Linked DNA regions of Homo sapiens. The protein of the gene in region 1 purifies or fractionates together with the protein of each later gene. This does not show direct contact. Each region holds a gene or a part of one and is shown on either strand. Other genes may lie near its edges.

What was found. The genes of interacting proteins can lie anywhere in the genome.
Region 2: the proteins of SBF1 (region 1) and WDR55 purify together in Homo sapiens (affinity purification with mass spectrometry; 2 studies listed by BioGRID and IntAct, with this or other methods). This does not show direct contact.
Region 3: the proteins of SBF1 (region 1) and COL1A2 purify together in Homo sapiens (affinity purification with mass spectrometry; 2 studies listed by BioGRID and IntAct, with this or other methods). This does not show direct contact.
Region 4: the proteins of SBF1 (region 1) and UQCC1 purify together in Homo sapiens (affinity purification with mass spectrometry, with the first as the bait; one large-scale study listed by BioGRID). This does not show direct contact.

Annotation. Positions count from the first base shown.
Region 1 is NC_000022.11:50,465,036-50,468,535, forward strand, and holds part of SBF1 (myotubularin-related protein 5), read right to left. Parts: intron 3,427-3,500; coding exon 3,341-3,426; intron 2,889-3,340; coding exon 2,751-2,888; intron 2,659-2,750; coding exon of another isoform or gene 2,656-2,658; coding exon 2,497-2,655; intron 2,414-2,496; coding exon 2,303-2,413; intron 1,676-2,302; coding exon 1,570-1,675; intron 1,448-1,569; coding exon 1,315-1,447; intron 1,224-1,314; coding exon 1,115-1,223; intron 1,040-1,114; coding exon 926-1,039; intron 806-925; coding exon 728-805; intron 294-727; coding exon 180-293; intron 95-179; coding exon 1-94. UniProt on the Homo sapiens protein: Acts as an adapter for the phosphatase MTMR2 to regulate MTMR2 catalytic activity and subcellular location. Promotes the exchange of GDP to GTP, converting inactive GDP-bound Rab proteins into their active GTP-bound form.
Region 2 is NC_000005.10:140,663,404-140,667,703, reverse strand, and holds the start of WDR55 (WD repeat-containing protein 55), read right to left. Parts: upstream 2,801-4,300; 5' UTR 2,792-2,800; coding exon 2,601-2,791; exon of another isoform or gene 2,547-2,600; intron 2,340-2,546; exon of another isoform or gene 2,267-2,339; intron 661-2,266; exon of another isoform or gene 591-660; intron 1-590. UniProt on the Homo sapiens protein: Nucleolar protein that acts as a modulator of rRNA synthesis. Plays a central role during organogenesis.
Region 3 is NC_000007.14:94,401,395-94,404,894, reverse strand, and holds part of COL1A2 (collagen alpha-2(I) chain precursor), read right to left. Parts: intron 3,329-3,500; coding exon 3,275-3,328; intron 340-3,274; coding exon 295-339; intron 203-294; coding exon 149-202; intron 57-148; coding exon 3-56; intron 1-2. UniProt on the Homo sapiens protein: Type I collagen is a member of group I collagen (fibrillar forming collagen).
Region 4 is NC_000020.11:35,384,474-35,387,973, reverse strand, and holds part of UQCC1 (ubiquinol-cytochrome c reductase complex assembly factor 1), read left to right. Parts: intron 1-3,500. UniProt on the Homo sapiens protein: Required for the assembly of the ubiquinol-cytochrome c reductase complex (mitochondrial respiratory chain complex III or cytochrome b-c1 complex). Involved in cytochrome b translation and/or stability.

The sequences.
Region 1 (3,500 bases):
CACGCTCTGACACAAAGCCAGCAAAGGCCATGCCCTCCAGCACCTTCATCAGGAAATCGTCCTCTACCAGCCCACGCTGGCCCAGGAAGGCTGCCTGGATGACAGAAGGAGGTCGGTCCCTCAGGGGTCTCCACCATGCGCTTATCTCCTACCCCACGCCCAGCCACCAGGCACCCCACCTTATGGAAGCGGATGACAGGCTCCGGGTGGATGCGCACGACGTGCAGGCACCAGCGATAGCCCTGCAGCAGCTGAGCGAACAGCCGCAGGAAGACCGCGCGCAGCTCCTTGTCCTGGGAGAAGAGCTGAGTGCAGGTGAGAGCCAGTCCTGCCAATCCCCACCCCAGGCTGCCCAGGAGCTTCTCCACACCCCAACCCACCCCAAGCTGCCCCGCTCCCATCCTTCTGCCCCTCCCACCATTCTGCACTCAGGGCCACCAGCTCCTCTGAAACTGTCTGGACAAGGCACTCCTGGCTCAGCACCCTCAAGGGCTCCTGTGATCAGACGCCAAGTTCCAGCCCCTTGCTGGGCCCCTGCCGCCTCGCCTGCACCACTCACGACCACCACTCCTAACTGCTGGCAGCTGCTTTGCTCCCAGGCTCCTGCTTCTGCTACTGGAGCCGGGGCCAGCCTGGGGGTGGGGCCCTGTGTGTCAGTGGCAGCAGACCTGAGTGGGGGCAGCCTAAGTGCCTGGGGTCCCCATGCAGGAGCAGCAACGACCCCCACCTGCATCTTCAGGGAGGAGGTGGATGTCGTGGGCGGAGGGAAGGCGAGGTCAGCCAACTCCAGCTCCGGGTCCAGGACCTGCCAGCACAGAATGGAGCAGGCAGCTGCACGCTGGCCCCGGCTCTAGGCTCCCCGTGCTGCCAGGTAGCCACATCCCAAAGGCCCCCAAGGCTCCCGCTTGCCCATGGTGCCCCTCACCATGCTCAGCACACTGTGCGTCTGACTCTGCAGTGGCTCTGGCAAGGGTGGAATGTGCACACACTCAGGAATGGTGACCGTCCCTCCATCCAGATCAGCAACAATCACATCGAGCTGCGGACCAAGGGAGCCGGCAGTCAGGGACCTGCAGGCCTGGGCCGTGAGGTGGACACAAAGCACAGCCCTTACCAGCTCCTGGGTCTCTGCCTGGAAGGCCGCGTTGACCCCAATGATGAAGGGCGTGGGTGTGCTGAGGACCTCCAGCAGCTGAGCCGGCAGGATGGGCACATAGGTGAAGCTGTGCAGGCCCCAGAGGATGCAGTGAGCCAGGGGACGCGGCTGGGCAAAGGGGCCAGGAGAAGGGGCTGGGAGGGCCGGGCAGGGGTCACCTGTATCTGAGAGGAAACAGCAGTGCCAGGAGGCCCCTACAGGCATCGGCGAGCCGCTGGTAGCTCCGGGACAGGAAGAGAACCTTGTGCTCCGTGAGGGCGGCACAGAACAAAGACAGCACGTTGGTGATGCCTAAAGGAAGAAGAGAAGCTTGGAGAGGACCCTGGGCCCCCACCCAGGCAGAGTGAGAACCCACATCCCTAACTACCAGTCCCCGAGGGGAAGCCATGCGGGGGTGGGACAGACAGGCTCACCTAGCTGGCGGAAGAGCAGGGCCACGCTGCAGCGGCTGACGGGCAGCGAGTCGGCCAGTGGAGTCTGGATGACCTGCCGGTCACCAGCCCCCAAAGAGATCGTCCTCTGCAGCAAAAAAAGGATCGGGGCTCAGTAGTTTGGCCAGAGCCAGCCCAGAGTCAGCCCAGAGCTCTGTGTCCCCAGGCAGACCCTGGTGTACTGACAGACCCGAGGTGGGACTGGCTGGGATGGGCAACATGGCAAGAGGGAAACGCCATGCCCTGCCTCTGTTGTCCCAAGCAGCTGCAGAGAAAACTCAGGACAGGAGTGGCTGCTTTTGACTTGGGGGTAGGGATGGGGCCTAGGTGGGCGGAAGAAACAAAGAATCCATACCGCTCCTTCCTCAACAGAGTCCAGCTGCACAGGACAGACGGGCAGAAAGACACGGTTAGACACTCCAACACACCCAGGCACAGGGCAGGGAGCAGACAAACAAGCTGACATCAACATCCAGAGACAGGCACACACCATCAAAGGAGTGGACAGAGAGGCTGAACGACACAGGCCCAGAGCACAGGTGCGAGGGCCAGGTAAGCAGGCCAGGACTGTTGGGGGCAATGGTGGCACGAGGACGCAAGAGGGAGCATCCAAGGCCTCCAGCTGTGTGTGGCTCTGGCTGGGCTCCAAATACCTACCAGGGCCCCAGCAGGAGGGCCTGTGGCTGTGCAGATACCAGCTGCCTCCAAAACTCACCTGCGAGCCCCCAGCCAGGGGCACAGTGCACGTCAGCAGGTTCCCAATCACGTTCTCCAGGCACACATTCAGGCCCTCCACGTGGATGGCATAGATGAGGCCAAGGCTGTTCTGCAATGACCAGAGCGGGGAGTGGTGGGACAGCCGATGGAAGCACCCTCGTCGTGCCTCGCCGCCCCGGCTGCCGGCCTCACCCTGAACACCTCCGTGTGGTCGAGTCGCGACACCAGTACCAGCGTCTTCGGTGCAAACAGCTGGGCAGATGGGGCAGGTGCTGTGGGAGACAGGTGGGTCTGGCCTCCCTCATCCCCCTCTTCCTCCCTCTCTGTGGCATCCTCCACGCGCGTCGTTTCCTGCTGGGGGTCAGGGGGAGACGGGGGCAGGGGGAGTTGGCCACGGCCCAAGGATGCAGCTTCATTCATGCTGTACCCAGAGGCCCCAAGCTGACCTGTGAAGGCTCCGCTGGCTCCCAGAAGGTCAAGCAGGCGCAGTAGTGGCGCTCGGAGTTGATGTCGGTGAGGACAGCAACAAAGAAGGTCGGTGGATTCCTCTCGGGACACAGCTGCCACCCGCTGGGCTGGCAAAACTGCAGGGAAGGCTCAGCAGTCAGCTCCTCCCCCTACACCTGTGGCAGGAACCAGCCCACCCGCCCCAGCATCTGCACCACCAGGCCTGGAGGCTCCAACACACACAGGCAGCTCCTTGCTTGGAGACCCTGGGGACACGTGGCCTCCTGGGCCTCAGTCTCTCCGGGTGAAGGGAGTAACAGCCTCTGACCTCCCCACCTGGGGCAAGGACCAGGAGATGGGAGAACAGTCCCCACCATCATGAGTGAGTGACAACATGACACAGTGACATGAGCACCGCACAGGCCGCCGGCCAAGCCGGTCAAACCCCCCGACAGAGGCTCTGCTGTCTTGTCCCTAGCCCAGCGGGGGGCCGGGCACTGTGGAGGCCCCTCAGTCAGGGACAAGGGCAGGGCTGTGCCCACCTGCCCTCCCCACCTGCCAGCACCGTCTCAGCACGCCCCCAACTCACCAGCTCGATGCCCTGGGGGAATGGGTTGTCCTCCCAGTCCTTCTCTGGGAAGCGCTGCAGAATCTGGCCCTGGCCTTCCCCACTCCCTGAGGACAAGAACAGGGGGTCAGAGCACCCAACCCGCCCCCCACCCACCAGGAGGCTTGAGGATCCCAGGGTG
Region 2 (4,300 bases), on another chromosome or scaffold:
GGAATACCCCCAAGTGCCTGCCTCAGAGCAGATCCTCAAAAAGGGCAGAATGAATACATGCTTAATTGCCAGTGAGTTCCAGGTAGGCAGAACTGAGCCTGCTCATTTTCTCTATCCCAGTGCTGAACGTGAAAAAGTAGCTTAATAAACATTCACAAATTGAATGAATACTTGGGAAGGGAGAAGAGAGCCCTGGAAAGCTAAGGTGGTGACATGTGGGTTGGATCATACAAGAGTAGAATTTGCCTGGCAGAGAGCAAGGGCCAGATACTGGAGGCAGCAGAGATAAGGAATGAGGAGGGTTCCTTGTAGCAGGAGAGTAGCATGACTGAATCTAGAAAGATGGGCTGGGGTGGGCATGAGACCACATGAGCCAAGCAGAAGTTTGAATTTAATCCTCGGAAAAGGAACCTTTTCACAATAGTCATGGCTGAGGGTGGGGAAGGGGAGAACCAAGAATTTTCCTCCAGAACCTTTTTTAAGACAAGGGAAGCAACAAAGTTGTGTGGAATGTGAAGAAAGGTGGATGTCTAGGGCAACTCCCAAGTGCCTGGCACCATAAATATGGATAGTAGTAGAAGGGAACCTACATTTGTTGAAGAGCTGCTTAGGTGCTGTACTGCAAACTTGTCCCCTCTGCAAGGGTAGGTATAATTCCCCCTTTCAAAGATGAAAATACAGAAGTTAACACGCTCAAGGCCATTACAGCTAATGAGGGGTTGAGGTTTAAATTCATTAAGTAAATCTGATAAGCATAACATCTTCAACTTTTCCACTGCCTCTAACCTGTATCTTTTGTTCAAAATCAAACATGTGTTGAGCATCTACCCTAGACTAGAGGTTGGAGATAAAATAGAGAACAAAACCGATGACAGATTACACTCCAGAACAGTGTTTTTTCACATTCTAGTCATATAACGGACTAGTAAGCTACGATCAGCATTTTGTGTACATGTACACAATAATAGAATAAAATCAGCAATTGTATCACAGAGCATCATATATAATGTAAAAGGTATTTCTCTGTGAGGCAAGGTCAAAGACGTTTGAAAAACATTAGTGAAGGAGACAGCATTCAAATAATTACACAAATGGACATATGGTTACCAACCATTCATTATTAAGGGAAAGGTACCATGGCACCTGGTGCCATGGCAGCATCTAACAGGTAACCAATTTTAGTCTGGGGAGAGAGGAAGAGGGAAGAGATCCTGGAAACTCAGAGATAGTAGGTAAAAGTGAGGGGAAAGGAGTTTTCCGGACAGAATAGCACATGCAAATGGGCTGAGGTTTCGAGATTTTTTTTTGAGATGGAGTTTTGCTCTTGTTGCCCAGGCTGGAGTGCAATGGCACGATCTCGGCTCACTGCCACCTCCACCTCCCAGGTTCAAGCGATTCTCCTGCCTCAGCCTCCCGAGAAGCTGGGATTACAGGTGCCCGCCACCACACCCAGCTAATTTTTCTATTTTTAGTAGAGACAGGATTTCACCATGTTGGCCAGGCTGGTCTCCAACTCCTGACCTCAGGTGATACCCCACCTTGGTCTCCCAAAGTGCTGGGATTACAGGCATGAGCCACCACGCCCGGCCCAAGACGTATTTTTAAAAGGTATGGATGAATGAGCACAGATGGTCAGGGCGTTGAAGGCAGGATTGAGAAATTTGTACTAAATCCTAAAAGCAGACCATTGAAGGGTTTTAATCAAGGGAGTGTCTCACTCTATTGTCCAAGCTGGAGTGCAGTGGCACGATCTTGGCTCACTGCAACCTCCACCGCCCGAATCCAAGTGATTCTTCTGCCTCAGCCTCCCGTGTAGCTGGGATTACAGGCCCGCGCCACCACACCGGGCTAATTTTTGTATTTTTAGTAGAGACGGGGTTTCACCATGTTGAACAGGCTGGTCTCGAGCTCCAACCTCAGGTGACCCGCCCACCTCGGCCTCCCAAAGTGCGGGTATTACAGGCGTGAGCCAAGATTTGTGGTTTGAAAAATCACTTAAAGGGGCCTGCTGAGCCTGTCTCGGGCACAATATAATAATCCGGTAGGAGTCCGGGCACGGTGGTTTACGCCTGTAATCCCAGCACTCTGGGAGGAAGGCAGGTGGATCACGAGGTCAGGAGTTCAAGACCAGCCTGGCCAAGATGGTGAAACCCCGTCTCTACTACAAATACAAAAAAAATTAGCCGGGCGTGGTGGCGGGCGCTTATAATCCCAGCTACTCGGGAGGCTGAGGAAGAGAACTGCTTGAACCCGGAAGGGGGAGGTTGCAGTGAGCCCAGATCGCGCCACTGCACTCCAGCCTCGGCGACAGAGCGAGACTCCGTCTCAAAAATAAATAGGTAAGTAAATAAATAATAATCGGTGGGAAATAACAAGGCCTTAAAGGGCTTTTTGGCCTACTACGGTATCTGGGCTCTGTCACGACATTCCAGTTCTTTCAACAGATTGGTGTGATAGAAGAGCCGAATGTTACTGAATAAATTGGACCCAAAGAATCTTGCAAAATTTGTCTCCCTGCAACTTTCTCTCATCTCTCCTGTTCCCAGGTCCACCCCCGGGAAGCTTCCAGACCCGGCGCCCCGGCCCTGCCCCGCTCTCACACGAACACGTCCCCGTCCACGTCCCCTGCAGCCAGTAGGTCACGGGCCGGATGGAACGCCAGCCCACTAGCCGGAGCTTCCAGCACGATGTCTTCCGGAGTGTCCCGGATCCGGGTTGGGGCTTCCATGGAGTCTGGGTCCTCCTCGTCGCTCCCATCCTCAGCGGGCCTCTCCTCACAAGTGCGGTCCATGCTGAGAAGGACTGCGAGCCGCGCCGCCGCAGGGTAGTCAGCCTCGGAACCACCCACACTGCGGGAGGAGTAGCCTGGCACTCCGCTTCCGCCTCGGGGGGCGGGGCCGGAAGTGTCTCCGGGACGTTCTTCCTCTTACAGGAGAGGTGGGTGGGCCGCTGCTGGTGCGGGTGGAGCGGAGCGAAGAGACCGCATCTGGGAGATCGGCTACTTCCTTGTCCTGCTGTGACCCCGTTTGGGCTAGGTAGACGGTGCGACCGTCAATTCCCTCCCTAGTCACGTCACGTAAAGTTGAGAACTGCGTGTAAATCTTTCCTCTCCTACTTCATCCAGACAGGCTTAATGCCCTTGGGATAGGAGAGAGGGACGCTAGTCCTTCGTGGCTTGGTGAAACCCAAGATCAAGTCAAGCGACAGCCTGGGCTGTCAGGAAGCCGCAAAATCCCACGCTGCGCGATGACATACGGGAGTCTGGGACAGCAGGCAGCTCAAGCAGCTGGTGTCCACGCCCCTAACGTCTTTGTGGCCAGTTTGCTGTGCCAGTTCCTACAATTTGTCTACAGAAACTCAATGGGCTGGACAAGCAGTGCTCAGTTACCAAGAATTTTTTTTTCTTTTTTGTTTTGCTTTGTTTTGAGACAGGGTCTTGCGCTGTCGCGCAGGCTGGAGTGCAGTGGCACGATCACCGCTCGGCTCAAGCGATCCTCCGAGTAGCTGGAACTACAGGCACGCGGCACCACGCCTGGCTAATTTTTATTTATTTATTGAGACGGAGTCTCGCCCTGGCTGGAGTGCAATGGTGCGATCTCGGCTCACTGCAACCTCCGTCTCCCGGGTTCAAGAGATTTTCCTGCCTCAGCCTACCGAGTAGATGGGACTAGAGGCGCATGCCACCACGCCCAGCTAATTTTTTGTATCTTTAGTAGAAACAGGGTTTCACCATGTTGGCCAGGCTGGTCTCAAACTCCTGACCTCGTGATCCGCCCGCCTTGGCCTCCCAAAGTGCTGGGACTACAGGCGTGAGCCACCGCACCTGGCCAATTTTTGTATATTTTGTAGAAACGAGGACTCAGTATGTTGCCCAGGCTGGCCTTGAACTCTTGACGTGTCTTCCCACCTCAGCCTCCCAAAGTGCTAGGATTATAGGCGTGAGCCACGGCGCCCAGCCCCTGAATTTCTTTTTTTAAATCAAGGTCTTGCTCTGTCACCCAGGCTCAGAATGCAGTGGTGTGATCATAGCTCACTACAGCCTTGAACTCTTCGGTTCGATCCTCCTGCATAGCTATAGACTCATGAACTCCTGGCCTCAAGAGACTCTCCTGCTTTGGCCTCCCAAAGCACTGAGACTGTGGGCATGAGCCATCGAGCCTGGCCTCAGAAACTGAATTTCAAACCCACAATCTCCAGGTCTTGCTTTTAGTGACTCTCCAGATGTCTTCACCTGTGCCATGTCTCTGTGACCATTTTTAATAATTGGGACTGCCTACCTACATCCATAGAACCATGGTGT
Region 3 (3,500 bases), on another chromosome or scaffold:
ACATCTTCACCAGCCTTGCCAGGAGGGCCAGCTGGACCACGAGCACCTGCAGGACCCTAAGAAAATGGGAGACCCATCATTTCACTAAGGTTATATTCATAAACTTCCTGGAAAAAAACTTATCACAAAGGTGGAAAAATGTACTCACAGTTTGACCAGGTTCACCAGGCTCACCAGCAGGTCCTTGGAAACCTTGAGGGCCCTAAAAGAAAAAAAGAATGTCATACTCCAAGCCTTTATTTCTTAATTCTCTGTCTTTTTACATAAGAGGCATTACAAGCTTTCAGTACTTACTGGGGCTCCAGCTGCACCAGGTGGGCCTCTAGGTCCCATTAAGCCCTGTAAAGAAAGCAGATATATCAACAGTTAGCACTGATAAGTTGTCATGGTGTTGGCTGGGGTCAGATATGACCAACTTAGCAGTGCCATTGTTGTGGTTTGATTCCATAGTTTTTATTCCTCCCAAGGAAGAATTTAAGGACTCAAACTTCCTGCACTAGTTCTCTCCCTTTGCTTTTCCTTTTCTCCCAATCCTTATCAACAGAAATCAATGAGAATTAGACGGGGCAGATAGGTTCCTTAAAGTTGTGCACAATTGGGCATATTGAGATTGTTCTGATGCAATGAAGTGAATCAGTCTTTGCAGAAGTGCAGAATATACAATTGTCTTCTATACAGCAGATGAAGCATGTCCATTTGGATATCTTTGATCATATGTCATCTTCCTATGTCATATTTAGCTAAGAAATTGGTATTTTTATTGCCACAAAGGACATAAATTGAAAAGAATCAAAAGTCCTTCTTAATGATTAGAGAGAAGTTTGTTATAACCTTATCGCTCCTCTAAGGGTTATTGGTGACTGATGAAAATGTCAAACAAAAGTGGATGTAATGAGGGGTGAAGGAAAAATAAAACATTATTGAAACAGCCTTCTGGAAGAGTCTATTATATGATATTATTGTTGAAAATATGGCCCAAATGATGGAAGATTGTTTTCCCCTTTGTTGTTTCCATAGCACAAAAGTAGGGTAAAACAGGCTGTTAATAGTTTGTAAGCTAAATACACTTTCTTGACTCCTCTTTGCAGTAATCAGTGCCTGTGTAAGCTCATCCGTAGGGTCTGTTCCTCATAATGCTGAAAATATTTCATGTACCAGTCTCAAGTAATTTGTTCATGACATCAGCTGTGGGGACTCTGCAGTCAAACCTACCTTACTGTATTAATGCCTAGAGTGAAATAACATGGATTTTATCTAAAATGTATGTCATTTTAATTATAAGAATTATTCATTTGGTTTTAGAAATTGCTCTGACATTAAAAGAAACTGTCACTTTTCCATCACAATAGCTTTTTAGGCATACATTAAAAAATAATTTTCTTTGACATCATGAATTTCTAATTATATTTATTTTTTCATGTATTTGCAACAATTTCATTTACATAAAATGTAGTGTATTTCATGGAGGCTGTGATTACTCATTAATTCAGAGAAGAACCCTGTGGGGTTTTATAGTTATTGATTTTCCAACATGGAAATTATTTTAATACTTTATTGCTGCCTATCTTCCCTATTTGTGAAACAGATATCTGTTGATTACATATGTCTGTGCATGTGTGTGGATGTGCAAGCTTAAATTATATTTCACTGATATTTCAAAGTAAAATACTCTGCTTTATGCCAAGACAGATGTTCCGAAAACAGGGGTATCTGAAATCCATATTAATTTTCCCAGCTTAGTGGGCTTTTTAAAAATGACATTTAGTAGCTCTTTACTTTCCGCCCCCTTGCTTCTTCTTGAGATGTAGGTACTGCTTTAAAACTGACTAATGTCCAGCATTAGCTGAAACAGCTAATTTCAAAAATCCAATATAAACAAAGCCAAAAGAAACACTCTACTTTTTCATTTCAGATATGAACATTTTAAACTACCAGAAAAAATTAGGGAATTAGAAGTCGTCAATTAAAGGTACATTATTTCTCAAGTGGGAGTTTTAATTTACAGAAAATATTATCTCACCCTTAGAGTATATTAGCTTACTGTGGGCCATTAGCTCCAGCAGAACATCTTCTTTTGAAGATAGAGCACTAAGTGCACTGCCCAGGTAAAATTTACATTTTAAAGACCTTGTTGACTTTGGGCAGATAAATACCTTTGTTTTGAAACAATTAATTAAAATCACTAAATTGCGTGTGTGTGTATACATTAAATTCTGTAGTGCTTAATCAACCTAACACTTTGACTTCTGGCAGTTTTCCCCTCTATTTCATATATGCTAGTATACATTTTGCATGCTCGTATTAGCATTTTTCCCTTCAAACTTCTCTCTAATGCTTGTTAGAAGCTTCATTTGTTAATAGTCATCATCATCATCATCATCATATAGGGAATGTTTCTAAGCGGTGCTCCACTGATAGGGTATGGTGCTGAATATTTGTACTGAGTGACATAAATGCTAGATTTTTACTCATACTCTCTTCTATATAGATTTACAATCAATAGACTAAAAAAGGATTTTTTTGGTCAAAATTCAGAAAAAGAAACATTTCCTATATTGTTAACTCCTTGAGGAAGGATCAGAATCTGTCATATTCCTTGTAATTTCCCCAGTTCCTAATACAGTTTAGGGCCCATTGAAGGCATCTGATTAATATCTGTTGACTAAATGAGTGGTTTATTCAAGGACTAGGTACATAAACCATGATGTAAGCAAATATTAGACATCTTGCCTGGCATCTAGTTCTAGTTATGTCATTAGTTACCTGGATGACTTTGAGAAAAGGGCTTAAACTCTCCCATTTTAAAATGAGTTAGCTGGACTAGATAGAACTTGTTGATCCTTTCCAACAAGTTCAGAGAACTTAATAAATAGTTCTATGCCTCTAAGTGTTGCTTAAAATTCTAAGCAATGTTAAAGAATATTAAAAAATTAATCAGAGTGATTACTGTTTTAAATTAAATTGATTTGCCCAAGTTATGGTTACTATGTCCAAAGATTATTTCTTGGACATAAGTATATGATCTATCTTAATGAGGATCATATAATCAAAAAGATCATATAATCATAAAAGATCAATTAATCTTTCTTTTGTAAAGAAAAGTGAACTCCTTAACTTATGTTTTCATAAATTTGAAAACAAAAAGAGTTGTTTTTATATAATCTAAGTATTGAGTGTTAACTTAGGTAGCTAAATAAATGGCGTGGTAAAATGTGACATAAAATGAATGATTTATTTAGCAATTTTTTTGGCTAAGATAAACAGATAAGCATACCATTGGTCCAGGGCCAAGTCCAACTCCTTTTCCATCATACTGAGCAGCAAAGTTCTAGAGAAGTAAAAAAAAAAAATTATATATATATATAAAATATTTTTAGTTACTAGTCATGTAGTTCATTTTCTCATTCTACTTGTAAATATTTTTCTGTTGTTATTTAAAAGAGGGCAATGTTTTTGATATAATTATTAGTTTAAAATTCTATATTGAACTAAATTCCTAA
Region 4 (3,500 bases), on another chromosome or scaffold:
TTATAAGATTGTTGTGAGATAACATAAGTAAAACACCAAGCATGTAGGTAGGTACTAGACATACAGGAGATCTTCAGTAAGTTGCAATTGCTATTTTTGTTGCTATTTATGTTCCTGTTGCTTGGGAAAGTTTTCTCCTCACTGTATGAAATGAAACTTAAAAAAAAAAAAAAAAGTTGTCCTAAAATTACCTTTACCAAATTGCAACCTCTCCCTTTGTCTTAGTTTCCTCATCTGTGAAGTGAAAAGGTTGGACCAGAATATCTCTGAGATTTCTTCCAGCTCAAGTGTTGTTATTCTGAGTTACTCTTTAGTTCTTCAGTTGCCTTTTCTCCAAGCTAAACAGCCTAAATTCCTTTTGACCTTTCCACTAGGACCTTTTATTCATCCCTTTGATCATTCCTGTGGTTCTTTTTTTGGACGTTCTCCAAAGTTGTCCTCTTTGAAAAAAAAAAAAAATCCACCTAGTTTTTATTGAGTAATGACTTCATGCCCAGAATGGTGTTGAGTATTGGGACAGAAAATGACAGACATATAAGATGGGCTGTGCCCTGGAGCTTATAGTTGCTAAAAGGAGCAGACACACACGCCCATGGTATTCAAGAATCGCTTGAGTTTGTCCCAGCACCCCCTTTCTACTTCTCTGCCTCTGTCATTCTTGTTTTTTTATTTTTTATTTTTATTTTTTGAGACAGAGCCTTGCTCTGTCACCCAGGCTGGAGTGCAGTGGCATGATCTTGGCTCACTGTAACCTCCGCCTTCTGGGTTCAAACGATTCTCCTGCCTCAGCCTCCTGAGTAGCTGGGATTACAGGCACACACCACCATGCCTGGCTAATTTTTGTTTTTTTTTGGAGGGGGGTAGAGATGGTGGTTTGCCATGTTGCCCAGGCTGGTCTCTAACTCCTGGACTCAGGCAACCCTCCCGCCTCGGCCTCCCAAAGTGTTGGGATTACAGGCGTCAGCCACCACGCCCAGCCTATTGATATTTTCTAATCTAAGCAAAGGAAAAATTGAGGTCTTTAAGGGTCGAGTGAATTTTTTGCGGGAAGTGCAAGGACAAGAGTGGGTAGTACAAAAAAGTAAATGTGTGTGTTTATAAGTGTGTAGGTGTGGAGAAACTAGATGTCCTTGATACTAGATACATAGGTACTTTAGTAGTTCAATATAGTGTGAAATGTTAGCTAATGGTAGGATAGAAATACAGTAGATGGTAGGACAGCCACAGAAGGAATCTACTGGTTACTCCTAGAGCTGTGAGGAAAAAGAAGGATCTAATAGAACCTAATAGAAGAGGACCCAGCCCAAAGCACAGCTTGTGGAAACTGCTGTTGGCTGTGTTCTTTGAACCAGTTTAAGTGCTTTGTGTTTTAGGTGGACCATTGCATTGATGTATGTGATGTAATGGGGAGGTGTTCTGTGTTTAGTCTGTGTTTTACAAAGCCTGCTTGATACTTATGAATTAAAGCCTAAGTGTCCTTGGGACTGACCAGAAGAATCCTGACTAATTTTTTAATATCCTCGTTTGGAAAGAAAAGTAAATAGTAACATTCCACAATTAGAAATTCTATTTTTTCTTCGTTAGGGTTAAAGAAAAAAAATCATTTTCATTCCATGTGTTCCATTTCTTCTTGGAATAAACCAGAATTGAAGAGTCAGCCCTCTTCCTGCTCCCTCTCACCCTTTTTTATTGTAAAGGTAATATAGCATTAGTGAGAGTTTGGAAACTAGATTTTTTTTTTTTTGCCAGAATTATTTTGGCTATAGATTCTTAAATTTATCCATAATTCTAACTTAACAAAATAACTCTTTGGTTTCTTGTGTGTTCTTTCTAAACTTGCCCATATGCAGTCTACGCAGTCATGTTTTACCTATAATTTTATACATATTATAAGCATTTAACATTTTTCATGTTGTTAACAATAATAATAATCTCTGAGTAAACCGTGCAGTCTGAGTGATGATGATGTGTCAGTGTAGGTTTGTTCTTTGTATCAAATGCACCACTCTGGTATGGGATGTTGATGGCGGGGGAGGCTGTGCATGTGGGGGAAGGGGTATGTGGGAACTCTGCCCTTTCCAGGAAGTTTTGCTATGAGCCTAAAACTGCTGTTAAAAAAAAAAAAAAAAGTCTATTTAAAAAAAAAAAAATCCCAGCCAGGCACCCAGGCTCATGCCTGTAGTCCCATTTTGGGAGTTCAAGGCATTTTGGGAGTTCAAGGCAGGAAGATCACTCACTTGAGCCCAGGAGTTTGAGGCCAGCCTGGGCAACATATGGAGACACTGTCTCTACAAAAATACAAAAATCAGCAGGGTGTGATGACAGATGCCTGTAGTCCCAGCAACTCAGGAGGCTGAGGCAGGAGAATTGCTTGAGCCGGGGAGGTGGAGGTTGCAGTCAGCTGAGATTGCACCACTGCACTCCAGCCTGGGCCATAGAGCCAGACCTTGTCTCAAAAAACAAAAACAAAACAACAACAACAAAAACAAAACAAAAAACCCTCAATGGATACCTGATTTTCCACTGAGTGACTGAACTTTCATTAACCATCTCCTTAATGGACTTTCCTCCCAGTTTTCATTCTGTATAGTATCTGGCACATAATAACGGCTATTTTATTGCCAAATTGTTTTTAAATGCAATGTGAACATGAAAAAGGTGGCGATTGTGATCCAAACAATAATGCTGGTGATGATAGTGATGATGGAAACTTCTGCTATTTATTGAGTGCCTATTTTGTGAAAGGCACTTTATATATCTTACCTTCTTTCATCCTTACTGCAACTGAGGTTCAGTAAGTTTTCCATGGCCACTGAGCTTGTCGTAGGCGACAGAAGCAGGTTTTAAACCTAAAAGTGGCTGGTGTCTTTATTTTTTTCCCCATATACGGCACTGCTGCCCATATTTAAATAGATAGATACTACAGTTCTGTTTCCTAGAATTGACTTAGATGTAGTTCCAGGTTTCCAGGGCTGAATTCTTTTTTTTTTTTTTTTTTTTTTTTTTTGAGACCGATTCTTGCTGTGTTGCCCAGGCTGGAGTGCAGTGGCATGATATTGGTTCACTGCAACCTTTGCCTCCTCAGTTCAAGCTATTCTCCTGCCTCAGCCTCCTGAGTAACTGGGATTACAGGCATGTGCCACCACACCTGGCTAATTTTTTGTATTTTTAGTAGAGATGGGGTTTCACCATATTGGCCAGGCTCTCAAACTCCTGACCTCAAGTGATCCATCCACCTCGGCCTCCCAAAGTGCTGGGATTACAGGTGTGAGCCACGCCACCTGGCCTTTGAATTCACTCTCTCTCTCTCTTTTTTTTTTTTTTTACAGACAGGGTCTTGCTCTTGCTGAGTCGCCCAGGTTGAAGTGCAGTGGTGTGATGATAGCTCCCTGCAGCCTCGATCTTCTGGGCTCAAGTGATCCTCCCACCTCAGCCTCCCAAGCAGCTTAAGACTATAGGCATGCACCACCACACCCAGCCAATTAAAAAAAAATTTGTAG